Linked DNA regions of Homo sapiens: region 1 is linked to region 2. A link means that fine-mapping ties the variant in region 2 to the expression of a gene that starts in the linked region. Tissue or cell type: testis. Region 2 holds a variant in brackets; the other region holds the start of a gene. All regions are shown on one strand. Distances are between the middles of the regions.

Evidence for each region.
Region 1: it holds the start of LINC00376, and the variant in region 2 is fine-mapped to the expression of LINC00376 in testis (GTEx, PIP 0.96).

What each region holds. Positions count from the first base shown.
Region 1 is chr13:63,324,564-63,333,015 of GRCh38, forward strand. It overlaps LINC00376 (long intergenic non-protein coding RNA 376), which reads right to left and starts at 3,531. Exons shown (of 7, transcript NR_126409.1): 1 at 3,491-3,531; 2 at 2,685-2,792.
Region 2 is chr13:63,237,389-63,245,840 of GRCh38, forward strand. The region is part of intron 3 of LINC00376 (long intergenic non-protein coding RNA 376); the gene reads right to left. Among named protein-coding and RNA genes, the nearest start is that of LINC00376, 86 kb to the right of the region's middle. The variant C/G (reference allele first, on the strand shown) is at 4,095.

The sequences.
Region 1 (8,452 bases), 87 kb after region 2:
GTATATGTAAACCATTTGTTTTACAGCTGTATTCAAAGATCTATGTTTTGTGAAAGCTTGGAAGCAAAGACTTCCAGAGTTTTGTTACTATGGAGAGAACTTCCCTTTCTCTCAGGTATAATGACTGTATATTTTTGGCTGTCAGGTCCATCGCTTTGTTTGCCACCTAACAGCACAAATTATTAATCAATAGCAATTTCCCAGGACACTAACTGATTCTCTATAAGAAACATTTTCAAAAGAAGGTGGGTACTAAGAAGGAATAAGATTAAGTATTAGTTAGAAGAAACTCTGAATTTCCACATTTATTAACCTAATTCAAAATGGGAGTATATTTGGATAAGATGAAACTTTGTCACTTCAAAATTAGAATCCTTGCATTATGTAATGATGAATATAGCCAGTTACAAAATCATAAACCTAAGTAAAATGGCAGATAACATTAATAAAGAAAATTTATAAAATTTAAATGCAAAGACTACAGAATTACCCCCTAATCTGCAATTTGGCTTCCCATGATTTCAGTTAATTGCAGTACAGTACAATAAGATATTTTGAGAGCAGAGAGAAAGAGACTACATTCACATAACTTTTGTTACAGTATATTTTTATAATTTTATTTTATTATTTAATATTATTGTTTTTAATTTCTTACTGCACCTAATTATAAGTTAAACTTTATCATAGATATGTTTGTATAGGAAAACACATAGCATACATAGGGTTTGCTGCTATCTGTGGTTTCCGGCATCCATTGGGGGTATTGGAAAGTATCCCCTGAGGATTACGATGAAGTACTAACCCTTAAAAAAAAACTGAGAGAGTGACCCCACCTGAAATAACACATAGGACATAAATTTAAAGGGTGAATAAGAGGAAATTTTTAATAAATTTTTAAAATTTAATAACATTTATCTTTTTCCAAGTCTCAGTTACGGTCACACTAGTTTTTTCTGAGTTACTACATTTGAAAAGTCACTATCATGCATCCAGGTCCACAAGTTAAAAATGGAGAAACACCTCTACTTCTCACATTTATTTTACAATAGAACAGCATAACATGGTAATCTGCTTTGTAAGCATCCCTAAAATCCATTTAATTATCTTTATTACCACCTCCATAAGCTAGTTTAAGCTACCAACTTCTATCTCCCAGACTACTGCAATAGATGATTAACTGTGCATACACAAGACCAACTCCTCTAATCTATTATTTAGAGAGTAACCCAGAAAAATCTTTGCAAAATGCAAATCTGATTATTTTTCTTCTATGCTTAATTTCTTTCAATAGCCTCACTTTTATCTTGTGGCAAATAAGGGCACCACTTTAAATGACCTCTGTCTTTCAGCTTAATGTCTCTCTCTCTCTCTCTCTCTCTCTCTCTCTCTCTATTTGTTCCTGTCACACTGGCCTTCTTCCTTTTTTTAAGATAAAATTCATCCTCAAATATTCTAGTACATATATTAATATCAATAGCTATTAAAATGTAATTGAAAATAAATCTAAATAAAAATGGTTAAAAAGTTAAAACCTTCAATCAAAGTTTCAAATAATCAATATATTTGTGAATAAATTCTCAAGCCAACTAGGTTAAAATTTAAAAATAAACATAATTTAAAATAAGATAGAAATCTGAAAAGTTGCAATATTTAAGTTGGCTGTGCTATAAAAAGAGGTTAATTTTCCTACATTGCTAGAAAAACTGCTATTGATAGTTACTTTATTTTTTTTGGAGGAAAATTGCTCAGTATCCAAAATCTACAGTGACATACAACTTGGTTCAGCCAGCATTTCATAGAAATCATAGTCTATATCCATAAAAATATACTTATGTATTAATATGTTGATTATAATATCTCAACGTAGAAATGAATTAAATGTCCATTTAAAGGTAAATGAAGATAATGAAGTATAATGGTAATCAAATGCACCAAAACCCAGCATATTTATAGTTTATTATGGCATAAATAGTGGATGGAACAGAAAAGAAATTTGTCATATTATCTTCTCTAACTACATTTCTTACATTGCATCCTCTGACTCCTCTTGACGGTGATAATGAACTGTTAAACAAACAGCTATATAACTACAAGCCACCTAACCAAACAAATCTACAGCCACCTGGAAATGCTTCTCTTTTATGAATGCCTCTTCCAACTTTTTAATTTTTCTTTAGGAATATATTAGTGTTTTCAGAGTGTATACACAGCTGACATGTTAAGCACCTTACATTTCATTCTAATTGTTGGCCAAATTTACTGGCAATTAAGTAGTATGTATGTTTTGATTCCTCTGAGTTTTTAAAATAATTGAACTTATGTGTAATAAAGAAGGAGTGGGTTAGTGAAGTCATTGTTAATTGCATCAAAAAAAATCTGTCGGGAAAGTTAATCAGAACTTAAAACTCATTTCCTATGGGACTGCACTTTCAATGTAATCATATCCTCGAAGAGGTTATATAGTGTGAAATTGTAGGAAAATGTGAGAAACTAATGCAGAGATTTTCATCACTTTTGAAAAACAGCCAATTCCACAATATTTTTAGTTAGATAAGAAATTTTGGTAAAATTAGACATAGTATCACATATATAATATTGTATCACCATTAATATAAAGTTAAAAATGATACTAAGCAGACAGATTTAGGTATCACCTCTATCTCTAGAGATTTATATCTACTTACTCTGTGTCTTTCAGTGCTTCTCACTTCTATGACCTCTTCATCTCAATCAAAACTCCTTTACCTACTCGCAGAATAATTATGCTGCCCTAGAAAATCCTGATGGCCATTCTGTCAAAATACGTTCATAATATTACTACCTCTCATCGCTTCTCTTTATAGCACCTTCGTACATGCCACTCTTATCTACTGTTTTATTCCAATCGCTTCTTAACTGGTTTTCCTAGTTATATCCTGTCCACTTTTGATCATTGATCATTGTCAAGAGCAGCTATATTCCAATTTAAACATAAGGCAAGTTAGAATATGATGTCGGTTGTGTTCAAAACACAGTTAACTCAAAGAAAAAAAAAGCTAAAGTCATGTAATGCCTAAAGGACTCTAACTGAATAGAACATCAGTTACGACTCTGACATCATTGTGTTATTTTACTCTTTTCACTTACTTCACTATAGCCACATTGATTTCAAGATACTAATGTGTGGTGTTTTAGTGATGAACTAATATCTATATACAGCTGCCAAAGATTGAAAGTGAAAATGTGACTTCAATTTATTTTGTGGCAAGGTGTTGAGGCAATGTTGAAGGACATGCAAATTATGTGCTGAGCAGTACTTTACTACAAGATTGTCACTAATATTTTGCATTTTCAATGAGCTCTACCCTGACCTCCCTATTTAAAATTACATCTCCTGAGATTCTTTCTTTTCATCATTCCTAATTTATCCTCCCACCACCCATTTATGCTTATCAACTTCTAATATACAATCTGTGACCAATCGTATTTTCCAAAGATGGCACAATCTCACTTTTACATTTTAGCAGTCTGACATTGGTGGAGTCTAATTGTTCTCCTCTTGAATCTAAACTGGCATTCAAGTGACTGCTTGAACTATAGAATGCAGGAGAAGCCATATTCTGAGAATTCTATGACTATGTCATAAGATGTCTTGTAGCCTCCACACAATTCTCTTAGAATTCTTGTTCTTGGAACTCTCCCTTTTAAAATGCAAGCACCATGCTATGTGATGCTCAAGTCACATGGAATGGTTAAATATATTAGGTTAGTGCAAAAGTAACTGTCGTTCTTGCCATTGCTTTTAATATTTGCACCAATCCAAGGTTCAGCTGAGCTCTCAAATGACATCCAACATTTACTGCCAGACACTGATAGGTTTTGAATCTGTGACTCCACCCAAATTTTATGTTGAATTGTAGTCCTCAGTGTTGGAGGTGGGGCCTGGTGGGAGGTGATTGAATCATGGGGGCCGAGTTCTCAAGAATGGTTTAGTGACATACCCTCAGTGCTATACTCATGATAGTGAGTGAGTTATCATGATACCTGGTTGTTTTTAAGTGTGTAGCACTTCTCTCCTCTCTCTCTTTCTCCTGCTCCCACCATGTAAGACATTCCTGCTTCCCCTATCCCTTCTGCCACAATTGAAAATTTCCTGAGGCCTTCCCGGAAATCAAGCAGATGCCAGCATTATGTTTCCTATACAGCCTGCAGAATTGTGAGCCAATTAATCCTCCTTTCTTTATAAATTACCCAGTCTCAGGCATTTCTTTATAGCAATGCAAGAATGGACTAATACACACATAAATGAACTCTCTTGGATATCCAGCCTAATTAAGCTTTCAAATGTCTACTTCAGACTCAGCAAACAACAAAATGCAGCAGTGAGAGAAATTCCAAGTAAGAACTGCTCTTCAGAGCCTAGACATTCCACAGATACCTAAAAGAGAAAAATATATTCTGGCTTCTTGTTTGTTTTAAGACATAAATGGTCTTTTTATTTTTAACATAGCAAAAGATAATTATTATTTGTCATGTTTATTGTATTTTCTAGCCAAATAATATATAACCTTCATTAGGCCAGGACACTTACCCTTCTGCTTGTTCAAAACTGTATTTCCAAATATGATATAGTGTTTGACACCTGTTACATACTCAAGAATTATTTATTGGTTGATGATTGTAATAGTTAATTTTATGTGTCAAACTGATGGGCTCACAAGATGCACAGACATTTAGTTAAATGTTATTTCTGGGTGTGTCTGTGAGGGTGTTTCCAGAGGAGGTAGTATTTGAATTAGACTGAGTACAGTACATCGTACTCACTTATGTGGGTAGACACCATCCAATACATTGAATTCCTGAATAGAGCAAAAAGATAGGGGAAGGGGGAATTCTCCCTTTCTCTGCTTGACAACATGAACTGGAACATTGATCTTTTCCTGTGCTAGGCATACTTAGTTCTCAGGTCTTCAGACCTGGACTGGAATTTACATCATTAGCCCTTTACACTACACCTCCAGCTTTCCTGGATCTTCATCTTGCAGAAGGTACATCATGGGACTTTTCAGCTTTCATAATTACATAAGCAAATACCTTAAAATAAATACCTTATAATAAATAAATAAATATATGCTCAAGTGATTGTGGAAGGTTAGATATCCCATTCTCTACCATCTACAAGCTGGTATATAGTATATAGTGACATAAGTAAATAAATACATACATATTTTATACATCTATGTATACATACATATATATATATGTTCAGACACACCTCTATGTTATATGTTTGTGTGTGTGTATGCTATAGGTTCTATTTCTCTAGAGAACACTGACTAGCACAATGGATGAACTTAATATATGACACTGTATTTTAGAACTATAGCCTATATCTCTAGTTAATTTTTTATATATCCTGTACCTGTAGTTAATCAATTTTGTTCGACTTCCCCAATTTTCTTTCAAACTCACTCAATCCTTTGTCGAAGTTCTCATGTCCTAAATTATTTTTATTTTTATTTTTTTCAATAAGAACACTTAACATAAGATCTACCATCTTAAAAACATACACACAATACAGTATTGTTAATTTCCTTTTCAATTGAAATTAGATATATTATAACACATTGCTCTAAGTAAGACTCTTTTACGCATACCTAGTTTTCTTCCTCTTTGCCTCATCCTACTTACTAGAAAATCCTAACTCTGATGAAAACTGGCTTTTTGAGATCTTTATGTCTATACTGAAGCAGCGACACAGAGCTGAAGAGAAGTGCATAACTTTGTTTACTGATCTTACTTTAAATTTATGACTGAAGGATTCAAGTGAAATCTCAGCATTCACCAGCATCCTATTACTGCTTTTAGTCAATTGTCCTCCTACTCTAGCAATACATTAATTTACAAATTCTCTTATTGCCAATCTATAACACTGACTCTTCTTTTCTCAACTGTTGACTTTGTTTTTATTTCTCTAAGAAAATGGAAGCACCGTAAAGACAATTCACTCATCCTCTGCCACCAAATTTACAAAACTACTTTCTTTTGAACACATATAAGATCAACCTTTGTTATTATGATGAACAATGTTTATATTTCAATTTAAGCCAAACCACTCTCATTAGCATGCTGGATTCCTTTCATTTTTATTTATTTATTTATTTAGAATTTATCTAACTATTGTCTCAAAATATAATATCTTTTCTTTTTTTTTTTTTTTTTTTTTAGAGAAGGGTCTCTCAGTCATTTAGGCAGGAGTGCAGTGGTGTGATTATAGCTCAATACAGCCTCAAACTCTTGGGCTCAAATAATTCACCTACCTCATTTTTTTTCTTATCAGTTATTGGGGTACAGGTGGTATTTGGTTACATGAGTAAGTTCTTTAGTGGTGATTTGTGAGATTTTGGTGCACCCATCACCTGAGCAGTGTACACTGCACCCTGTTTGTAGTATTTTATCCCTGGCCCCCTTCTCACCCTTCCCACCCTTCCCCTCAAGTCCCCAGAGTCCATTGTATCATTCTTATGCCTTTTTGTCCTCAGAGCTTAGCTCCCACATATCAGTGAGAACATACAGTGTTTGGTTTTCCATTCCTGAGTTACTTCACTTAGAATAATAGTTTCCAATTTCATCCAGGTTGTTGCAAATGCCGTTAATTCATTCCTTTTTATGGCTGAGCAGTATTGAATATATATATATATATATATATATATGTATGTATCTCACAGATTCTCTATCCACTCATTGATCAGTCATTGATTGATGGGCATTTGGGTTGGTTACACAATTTTTCAACTGCAAATTGTGCTGCTATAAACAAGCATGTGCAAATTTCTTTAATAACTTATTTTCCTTTGTATAGATACACAGTAGTGAGATTGCTGAATCAAATGGTAGTTCTACTTTTAGTTCTTTAAGGAATCCCCACACTGTTTTCCATAGTGGCTGTACTAGTTTACATTCCCACCAGCAGTGTAGAAGTGTTCCCTGATCACTGCATCCAAGCCAGCATCTACTGTTTTTGATTTTTTGATTGTGGCTGTTCTTCCAGGAGTAAGGTGGTATCATATTGTGGTTTTGATTTGCATTTCCCTGATCATTAGTGATGTTGAGCACTTTTCATATGTTTGTTGGCCATTTGTATATCTTCTTTTCAGAATTGTCCAGTCATGTCCTTAGCCTACTTTTTAATGGGATTGTTTGCTTTTTTCTTACTGATTTGTTTGAGTTCATTGTAGATTTTTGATATTAGTCCTTTTTCAGATGTACAGATTATGAAGACCCACTCTGTGTGTTGTCTGTTTACTCTACTGACTGTTTCTTTTGCTATGCAAAAGCTCTTTAGTTTAATTAAGTCCTAACTATGTATATTTGTTTTTATTTCATTTGCTTTTGGGTTCTTGTTCATGAAATCCTTGCCTAAGCCAATGTCTAGAAGGATTTTTCTGATATTATCTTCTATAATTTTTACAGTTTCAGGTCTTAGATTTAAGTCCTTAATCAATCTTGAGCTAATTTTTGTTTAAGGTGAGAGATGAGGATACAGTTTCATTCTCCTACCTGTGGCTAGCCAATTATCCCAGCACCATTTGCTGAAAAAAGTTGTCCTTTTCCCATTTTATGTTTTAGTTTGCTTTGTCCAAGGTCAGTTGGTCATAAGTATTTGGGTTTATTTCTGGGTTCTTTATTCTGTCCCATTGGTCTGTGTGCCCATTTTTATACCAGTACCATGTTGTTTTGGTGACTATGGCCTTATAGTATAGTTTGAAATCAGGTAGTGTTATGCCTCCAGATTTGTTCTTTTTGCTTAGTCTTGCTTTGGCTATGCAGGCTTTATTTTGGTTCCATATGAATTTTAGGGTTTTTTTTTTCTAATTCTGTGAAGAATGATGGTGGTATTTTGATGGGTATCGCATTAAATTTCTAGAACGCTTTTGGCAGTATGGTCATTTTCCCAATGTTGATTCTACCCATCCGTGACCATGGGATGTGTTTCCATTTGTTTGTGTCATCTATGATTTCTTTCAGCAGCATTTTGTAGTTTTCCTTGTAGTGGTCTTTAGCCTCCTTGGTTAGGTATATTCCTAAGCATTTTATTTATTTATTTATTTTTGCAGCTATTGTAAACAGGGTTGAGTTCTTGATTTGATTCTCTGCTTGGTTGCTGTTTGTATATAGAAGAGCTACTGAATTGGGTACATTTATCTTGTATCCAGAAACTTTGCTGAATTCTTTCATCAGTTCTAGGAACTTTCTGGAGGAGCCTTTGGATTTTTTGAGGTAAGCAATCATATTATCAGCAAACAGTGACAGTTTGACTTTCTCTTTACTGATTTGAATGTCCTTTATTTCTTTCTCTTGTCTGCTTGCTCTGGCTAGGACATCCAGTAGTATGTTGAAGAGGAGCAGTGAGAGTGGGCCTCCTTCTCTTGTTCCAGTTCTCAGAGGAAAAGCCTTCAACTTTTCTCCATTC
Region 2 (8,452 bases):
AACACATTTTATATTGGCTTTACAAAATGTAAAGAGTCAAAAATAAACAAAAATATTAACATCATGTAAAGACATTTTCATTTTCTGTTACTCTACAGAAGTTCTAAAATGTATAAGAATAAGAAGTGAAGGTAAATTTTTAAATTGTAAAATAAAGAGCATTTTGTGTTTTTTCTTTCTCAGATCTTTAAATGAGGATCTTTTAATGAGCCTTTAAATGAGGATCTTGTAATGAGGCCAGGTGTAATCAGTGTTTCTTGTGAGTGGGAGACAGAAGAGTCAAAGCCTGACAAGGAGACGTGATGGCTGACGCAAAGTTTGGAGAGATGCTATTGCTGAGTTTGAAGATAGAGGGATCACAACTCAGGGAATGAAGTTGGCCACTAGAAGCTAAGAAAGACAAGAGCCTCCTAATGTAGTACAGCCCTACCAACACCATGATTTTATCCCCATGAGGCATATTTCAGACGTCTAACCTCCAGAACTATATATTTTTTAAGTGTTGTTTTAAGCCCTGAAGTTGGTGGTAATTTGTTAGAACAGCAATAGAAAATGAGTACAACTCTAAACTAAACAGTCATTTATTTCTAAAGTTCTGTCCTAAGTTAGAAGCCATGAGAAATTCACTTGATAATAGTTCAGCAGAGAAAGTGTAATGCACGTATCTGAAGTCATCAACCCTAAAACAAAGAAACTTTTGAGTGTAGACTTTAGAAAACATGATTCTCGTGGCAGATGGAATGCGAGAATAGAAATTGTCTTTGTACTCATCTTACAGTTTGAGAAATATGTTTCGTAGTATGGTTATTTTTCAGAGATCTTGAGAAAGATACTATCTTTATATCTGTCAGAATGGAAGATACTGGAGAGGCAAGTGTCTACATTCTGTATGTCTGCGAAGCATGATGAGACTTCGCTGTGACAGCTCCCTGAGTAGAGCTCAAATCACGCTGTTGCCACCTGAGCAGTAGGGCAGAGCCTACTCTGCTCTTCTGAATATGAAACAGGTCCAGTTGTTCCACACAACCGATGTTCGTGGTTTCTTTGAATAAACATAGAAATTGATCCTCCCAGTCTTAAAACTTGAAAAAGTTATATTCGTTTCATGTAAGTTTCTTTGTCAGGAAACCAACTATAAGTCCTCCCAGATAGCATCAAGCAGCTGAAACTTACTGGATCACTACATTTAGACAATGAGATGCCAGACCGCTCACTTGTCATAACTGCCTATCTAACTCCTGCTTCCTGTTGACCAATTCCTTTTCCTTTCTTTTCCCTAATTCCTGTTTTCCCACACATGATTACATTTCTTCTCTGCTATATAAACCCCTAATTTTAGTTAGACAAGGAGACAGGTTTGAGGCTGATCTCCCAGCTCCTTGGCTGTAGCACTCAAATAAAGCCTTCTTCCCTGGCAAAACTCATTGTCTTAGTCATTGCTTTTTGTACATCAAGCAGCAGGTCCTAGATCAAACCCTTGGAGTTTTGGTAACAAATACGATAAAAGCAAATGTGAACAGCAGAAATTTAGAGAAAGAAGAACTCGGATGGCATGAAGAGAGTGGTGCTATTTTGGTGGCATTTTGCTTGTAATGGTCCTTGTTTCTTCCAAAGGGCCACTGTAAGAAGCCTTCTGACATTCCCAGATGCAAATTATTAGAAATAATATATAGCCAACTGACAGCCACTTGTGGAACCACATGCTTCATATTTCAGGGAGTTTATTGCTTACTCAAACTACACACCTGCATGGGCATCTGATGGCAACAACATATGTAGAAAATTGGACATCCCTAGTCTTTACTGACACACAAATAATGAGAACCTTATGGATTGGACTTGGAGTACATAGTCCAGGCATTTTCTAATGGAAATAGGGGTATTATAAGGGGAGCTCTTCAAGGAGGCTTGCCAAGGCTGGCAGTTTGATAAGAAAATAAAAGAATTCATGTGTGGACTGAATGCACTACTTCACTGAAGAAACATCTCTGTCAACAACACAACTTTTCAACAAACCAAAGAAAGGGTTTGTACCCTCAAATTCTATTAGAGATATCTATATCACTATAGAATCTGAAGTTTTAAAGGTCAGTGACTAGACATTATAGCAACTGAGCCAGAGTGTAGTGAAATAAGAATAATTTGTAGAAATATTACTGGTAAAATTACACTATGGTAGTGTGGCTTTTATTATTGTTTTCAATGGCTGGAACATAATGGTTTAAAAGATAATTTTAACCAGTTAATTTCAACCAGTTAAAAGTGGGCCAACAGAGTTGTATTCCCAGGTGAGATGGATGGGCAGTATTTCAAAATAATATCTGAAAGTTTGTATTGGTGAGAATCTGGATTATAATATCTAGAATATAGTTATATCCATCACCCAGATTCAAACTACAATGTACTAAACAATACCTTTCTGTTACTATCCCAGACACTGTAAATGTGTAGTTAATGGTTAAAAGTATTTCTATTAGATATGAATAAAAATTGTACTCTAATTTTAACCATTTGGTATGTTAGATATTAATCTATTTATCTAAACTTCCTTCTATAGCTATGCAGTATAAAAAGTTTTATAGTATTATTAGCAAAATTAAATGGAGATGATAAACCACAGGATACGAAAGTATTTGGAAAAACTGAATTGAAGCCTCTAATTGATACCATACCTGGGTAACTGGATTAGTCAGAAAAAGAGGTCAGTGTGACCTGACCTTAGTAAAATTAGGATGCAATACAATGCCTCCATCAATACACGTAAAAATGTACTTGTTAACACACGAGGAAAAATAATATTCCAAATGGTAAAATATGATCAATGGACTTGTAAAGTGAGAAGTTCATAGTTCATTTATTTTTGTTTTTTAGAATAAGTTTTTGCTTTTCCTCACGTGATACAAATCCTCGTGATCATCAACATGGTAAAAAGTGTCCTGCATTCTATAAAATAAAGCAGTAATTGTCTTAATACAGGAATGGTAAACAGTGTCCTGCATAGTATGAAATGATGCAGTTATTGTCTTAAGATGATTAAGGTACATGAGGCAAAGTGATACTGCTCCGGGTCAGAGTGTACACTGGGATGGGATGGAGAAGTGGTAGGCAGGTAAGGTATTTGATGACTTGGCTACAGCTGAGGTGGTTTTTATCTTAACTAGAATTCCTTGTAAATATTGACCAATGAAACTTAGTAATTGAAAGATAATTGAGTGCCTCATGGGCACTTTACTGATTACTGATCTAGGAATGATTTTAAATGATATGCCTGGTCCCTTGAAGTTGTTTATTGTAAATAAACTTGTAACTTATGCACTACATACACCTGACTAGTGAAGTGTATAAGCTGAGAGACACTAAAACCTAGTAGCATCCCTGGGTTAACTCATCCTGCAGAAGTCCTTGTCTTTCAGCATCTGAAAATACTTCCAGGGGTGAGAAAGGGATAACAGAAATATGCATCTGCTGCCACTGGGGTCATCCCCATATTGATGTGAGAGGTTTGCCCATTTTGATTCTCTATTGTTTCCTTTATTATTTTCTATTCCAGTTGGGTGTTGAATGAGACTAAAAGAACAAAGCTACTCATAATTAACCTGATCCTTTCTCACTACTGAATTTTTAAGTCTCTGATATCTGTACCTACATGCTATGTCTTCTGCTTCCTTACTTCATTCATTGTTTCTTTTTTCCTCTCACCTGCCCAAGAGCTTTACTTCTTCCTATTATCAGTATTTCATTTTAATTCCATAATAATCAGTTTAATAATACATTTCAATATCCTCAAGCTAAAATAAATAAAATTTTAACAGTTGTAATTAAAACAACCTACCACCTTCTCTCAACAGGGAAATTTTGGTAGGCTTATGATAACTCAACAATGGGAAAATAAACAACCTTATTAAAAAATGGGCCAAAGACCTCAATAGACACTTTACAAAGAAGATATAAAGATGACAAATAAGCCTGTAAAAGATGCTCATTATCATATGCCATCAGGGAAATGCAAATTAAAACAAGATACTACTACATCCCTATTGGAATAGTTAAAATCCAGAACAATGACAACATAAAATAGTGGCAAGGATGTGGAG[C/G]AAGAGAGTCTCTCTCTTAGACAACTATGGAGACAGTAAAAACATCAGAGGTTACAGGGGGTTATGGGGGAGAAAGAGATGAGTATGCGGAGCACAGAAGATTTCTTTTATAGATTTACAGAATACAAGTGCGTTATGGTTACATGCATATTTTGTGTAGTGGTGAAGTCTGAGCTTTTAGTGTAACCATCACCTGAATAGTGTTTAGTATACCAAACAGGCAATTTCTCATTCTTCACCCCACTCATCACTCCACCCTTTGGAGTGTCCCATGTCTATTATTCCACACAGAGAGGAGATTTTAGGGCAGTGAAACTATTTCATACTATAATGGTAGATGCATGTCATTATACATTCATTAAAACACACAATGTACAACACCAAGAGTGAACCTTAATATAAACTACAGACTCTGGGTTATAATGATGTGTCAATGCAGGCTTATCCATTATAACAAATATACTACTCTGGTGGGGGATGTTGATAATGGGGAGGCTGTGCATTTGAGGATACAGGGAGTGTATGAAAATTCTCTGCACTTTCTGTTCAATTTAGCTGTTAACCTAAAACTACTTTAAAAAAATAAAGTTTACCTAAAAGAAAACATCATGGGATATAATTAAACACCCAAATAGGGTGGCTATTATCTATTTTTTAAAAAGCATTTGTATTGCTAGTAGCAATGTAAAATGATGCAGCCTCTATGGAAAATACTATGGTGGTTTTTCAAAAAAATTAAATATAGAATTACCATATTACCCAGTAATTTTACCTCTGGGTGTAAAAAACAAGGATTAAAAAAATAAATAAAATGTAAAATAAATAAAAAGAATGTAGTTTTCTCCATTATTCATATCTATTTCATTTGATGCCATGATACTTTTGAAATAAAATGTCATTCCTTAAAAAAAGATATGCATATGAATGAATATGAATTTGTATAATGGTTTATTGTCTCCATGACAGCACAAGATTTGTCTGTTTTGTTTATAGCTCAAGTTTCAGAATCCAGAAGAGACAGTTTTATATAATCAGGTTTTAATACTTATTCCTCACACACAAAAAATTCTATTTATAAAGACTGGAATAAAAGCACACCCTTTTTCAATTTCTAAATTTGTTGCTTTTTACAAATATTATTATAATATCTATACATAATTTGAAAAAACCAACAAATTTAGAATTCATAACATAAAATATATTATATCTAAAACTAAATGTATGCCATATTGATAGATGTAAATGTGCCAAAATAATTTATATTTAAAGGCTCTTTTAAAAATAAAACGTATGTACTTTTAAAAAGTTAAGTTAAAACAAACCAGTCAAAAGGCTAAAAACAATCACAAAACATCATAGGCATTGTGAACTTATTTTCAAACAAGTATTAACGCAGGTCAATTAATTAAAATTAATTAAAACAAATATAGCCACAATATAAAAAAAGATATAATCTATAATTAAGAACTACAAGCTGAGTCTTGTTAAACTTTATATATTTGTTAGAACTTAAATATATTTCTAAGTTATAATTTGTGATTGCCAATATAGAAAATATTAACACAGCTTTAAAATATAACCCATGTCAAAATGAGGTGCCTAATAAATTCTTATACTGTGGTTCAATGCAGAATCCATTCATTTTTAATATCTTACGGGTAATACGCCATAAAATTACACATGTAAAGTGATAATCCTAAAATACTAAACTTCGGGTTACTAAATGCAACCATTGCTGTGTTGATTAATTATTAAGAGATACACCTTTTATTAATATTGTGGGCATAGATAAAGACAGAAATCATAGAATATTCTTCAATTCTGTTACCTCCATAAAAATTTTATGGCACCTTGCTGTTTTTGTTTGTTTTTTGAGACCGAGTCTCGCTCTGTCGCCCAGGCTGGAGTGCAGTGGCTTGATCCTGGCCCACTGCAACCTCCGCCTCACATGTTCAAGCGATTCTCCTGCCTCAACCTCCTGAGTAGCTGGGATTATAGGCATGTGTCACCACACCCAGCTAATTTTTTATATTTAGTAGAGAAGGGGTTTCACCATGTTAGCCAGGCTGATCTCGAACTTCCGACCTCTGGTGATCCACCCGCCTCAACCTCCCAAAGTGTTGGGATTACAGGCATGAGCCACCATGCCCGGCCGGTACCTTGCTGTTAAAACACTTCTATAAATAATCTTTTACACGTTGAAAATAATATAGCAGGGAACCAATTTTTTTTAAATTAAAGTGATTATATTGAATCTTGTGTAGATGAATATTTAACACATAATTCAGTTGAAAACAATATCTGCCAATTTTGTGTTAAATGGAATACATTACATTTGAAAAAACAGTCTCATTTAGATTTTACTTGTAACAAATATGTGTAATGAATTTGGGACTTCTCAAATACTTGCAAACAAATTTATATTTATAGGAAATAAATGTATACTTCAGAAAATAAAATATAAAATTTGAACGGAGCAATAATTTTTATAACTAATGTTTAGCAAATCAAATATAATACGCAATGTGAGCTCATGAAAGTGTTATGCCAGGAGATACCACAGACATTGTCATCTGTAAGAGTGTCTGTTTATTCCACAATTCCAGCAGAAACATTGTTGGTCCACTATATAAATGGCATCCACTGTATTGTTCAACAAGGTGTTCTTATTTCACAATTCTACCACAATTACATTTCTAATTTTAACATTTTGTTATGTAGGCATGCCCATTTTTGTAACATAATTGATCTTCCTAATTCCAATCATATTTTTTAAAAATTGGATTTTATTGAGGCAAAAATTATTTGGATTTAATTTCATGTCAAGAATAAGCATAATGAGAAAGTAATTAAATTATTCAATCTCATTTAAAGTAGTTACCTCAAATGGACAAAGCCTTCTGGGCAAAAAATTTATCATCAGTGTAAGGGAAATTAATGAGAAAAAAAGACAAAAAATAATAGAAAAATGGTAAAATATATAATTGTTCTATTCCTAGAAAATAAAAAAAAAAACATGTAACCAACAAACTTTGAATGGTGATTAAAGAAATTAGCAAGGAGAAAAATAAAAAATAAAGTAATTACAACTTTTCCAAACAAAGATATGGCAATATTTTAAAATTTTGAGATTATCATTTATTGTTAAGCCTTACAAATACCATTCTACATTGTGATTTATGTTTTGCTCTTATTTCAATGAACTTTTTGATCATTACATTGATGATTGGTTATTACTGTCCTGGAAATATTTTGATATTTTTATGTTGACCTTGTTTAAAGCAAACCAACTAATTTACTAACTTACTCTATCAATACAATAATATATTATCTTGCTTTTCCCAAATTATTTATGCAATTGGTATCTTTATTTTTTTTTAACAACTCTTATACTTCTTTTTTGGTTTGACTTTAATGAAAATGCCTTGGTGTTTCACTAATAATTTAGGTGCTTTTCATGATTTTCTGATAAAAGTAGTTTGATTTTTATTGCGATAACCCTTAAAGAAGATCTTCTGTTTTCTTTTTAATATTATCATTGCCAACTGCATTTGGGGTTTAGACCATCATAGCCTGTTTTGTTATTTTCAGAACATGTTATGTTTTGTTTTACCTGGTGTATGGAAATATTAAGAGAGAAAAGGAACCTCTCTATTCAATCTGTATTCTTAGTTATTCTTCCTTTGGCCTTCAGCTCTGCTTTCTTTCCATTGACAATTTTCTTTGTGTGGTTTGGATTCTTTCTTTACTTAGAAAATGTTAAATATACTCACATTGCATTACGGTCTGCATCAGACCTTCCTGAAGCAATGGGAAGATTTCCAGTTTACTCTGTTTGAAATAATTGTTTTATAGGATTTAAAAATAAATTTGTATATATCATAAAGCATATTGTTTTAGATTCTTTCCTATTTGTCTAGGATTTATTAAATTATATAAACAGATTTGTAGCCAAATGACACTTATATGAAAGAAACAATATATTGTATCTACCTTCAGTATAACAGACACTTGACTAGTCACTTGATATTTAAAGCTTATACCTCATTTCTACATTTTGAGATAATATTATTTTATTAATTAGGCAATAAGTTTGTACAGCTAAGGGCCAGGCTAGGTTTCAGAACTATATCTAACTAGCATCGACAATTTAGCTATATAACACAAGATTTTGTTGAAGAAGGATGTCATAGACTGAAGATCTCTCTTTATCCTGCATACATGCACTTGAACCTGTGTGTGTGCATGTTAACAGAGACTTTTATGAGAACAAATTGTTGGATTGAGAGGGAAATAATTTGCATTTTAGCAAACAATATTAAATCTGTGTTATTTATGGTAACTGAAAATCAGCAAAC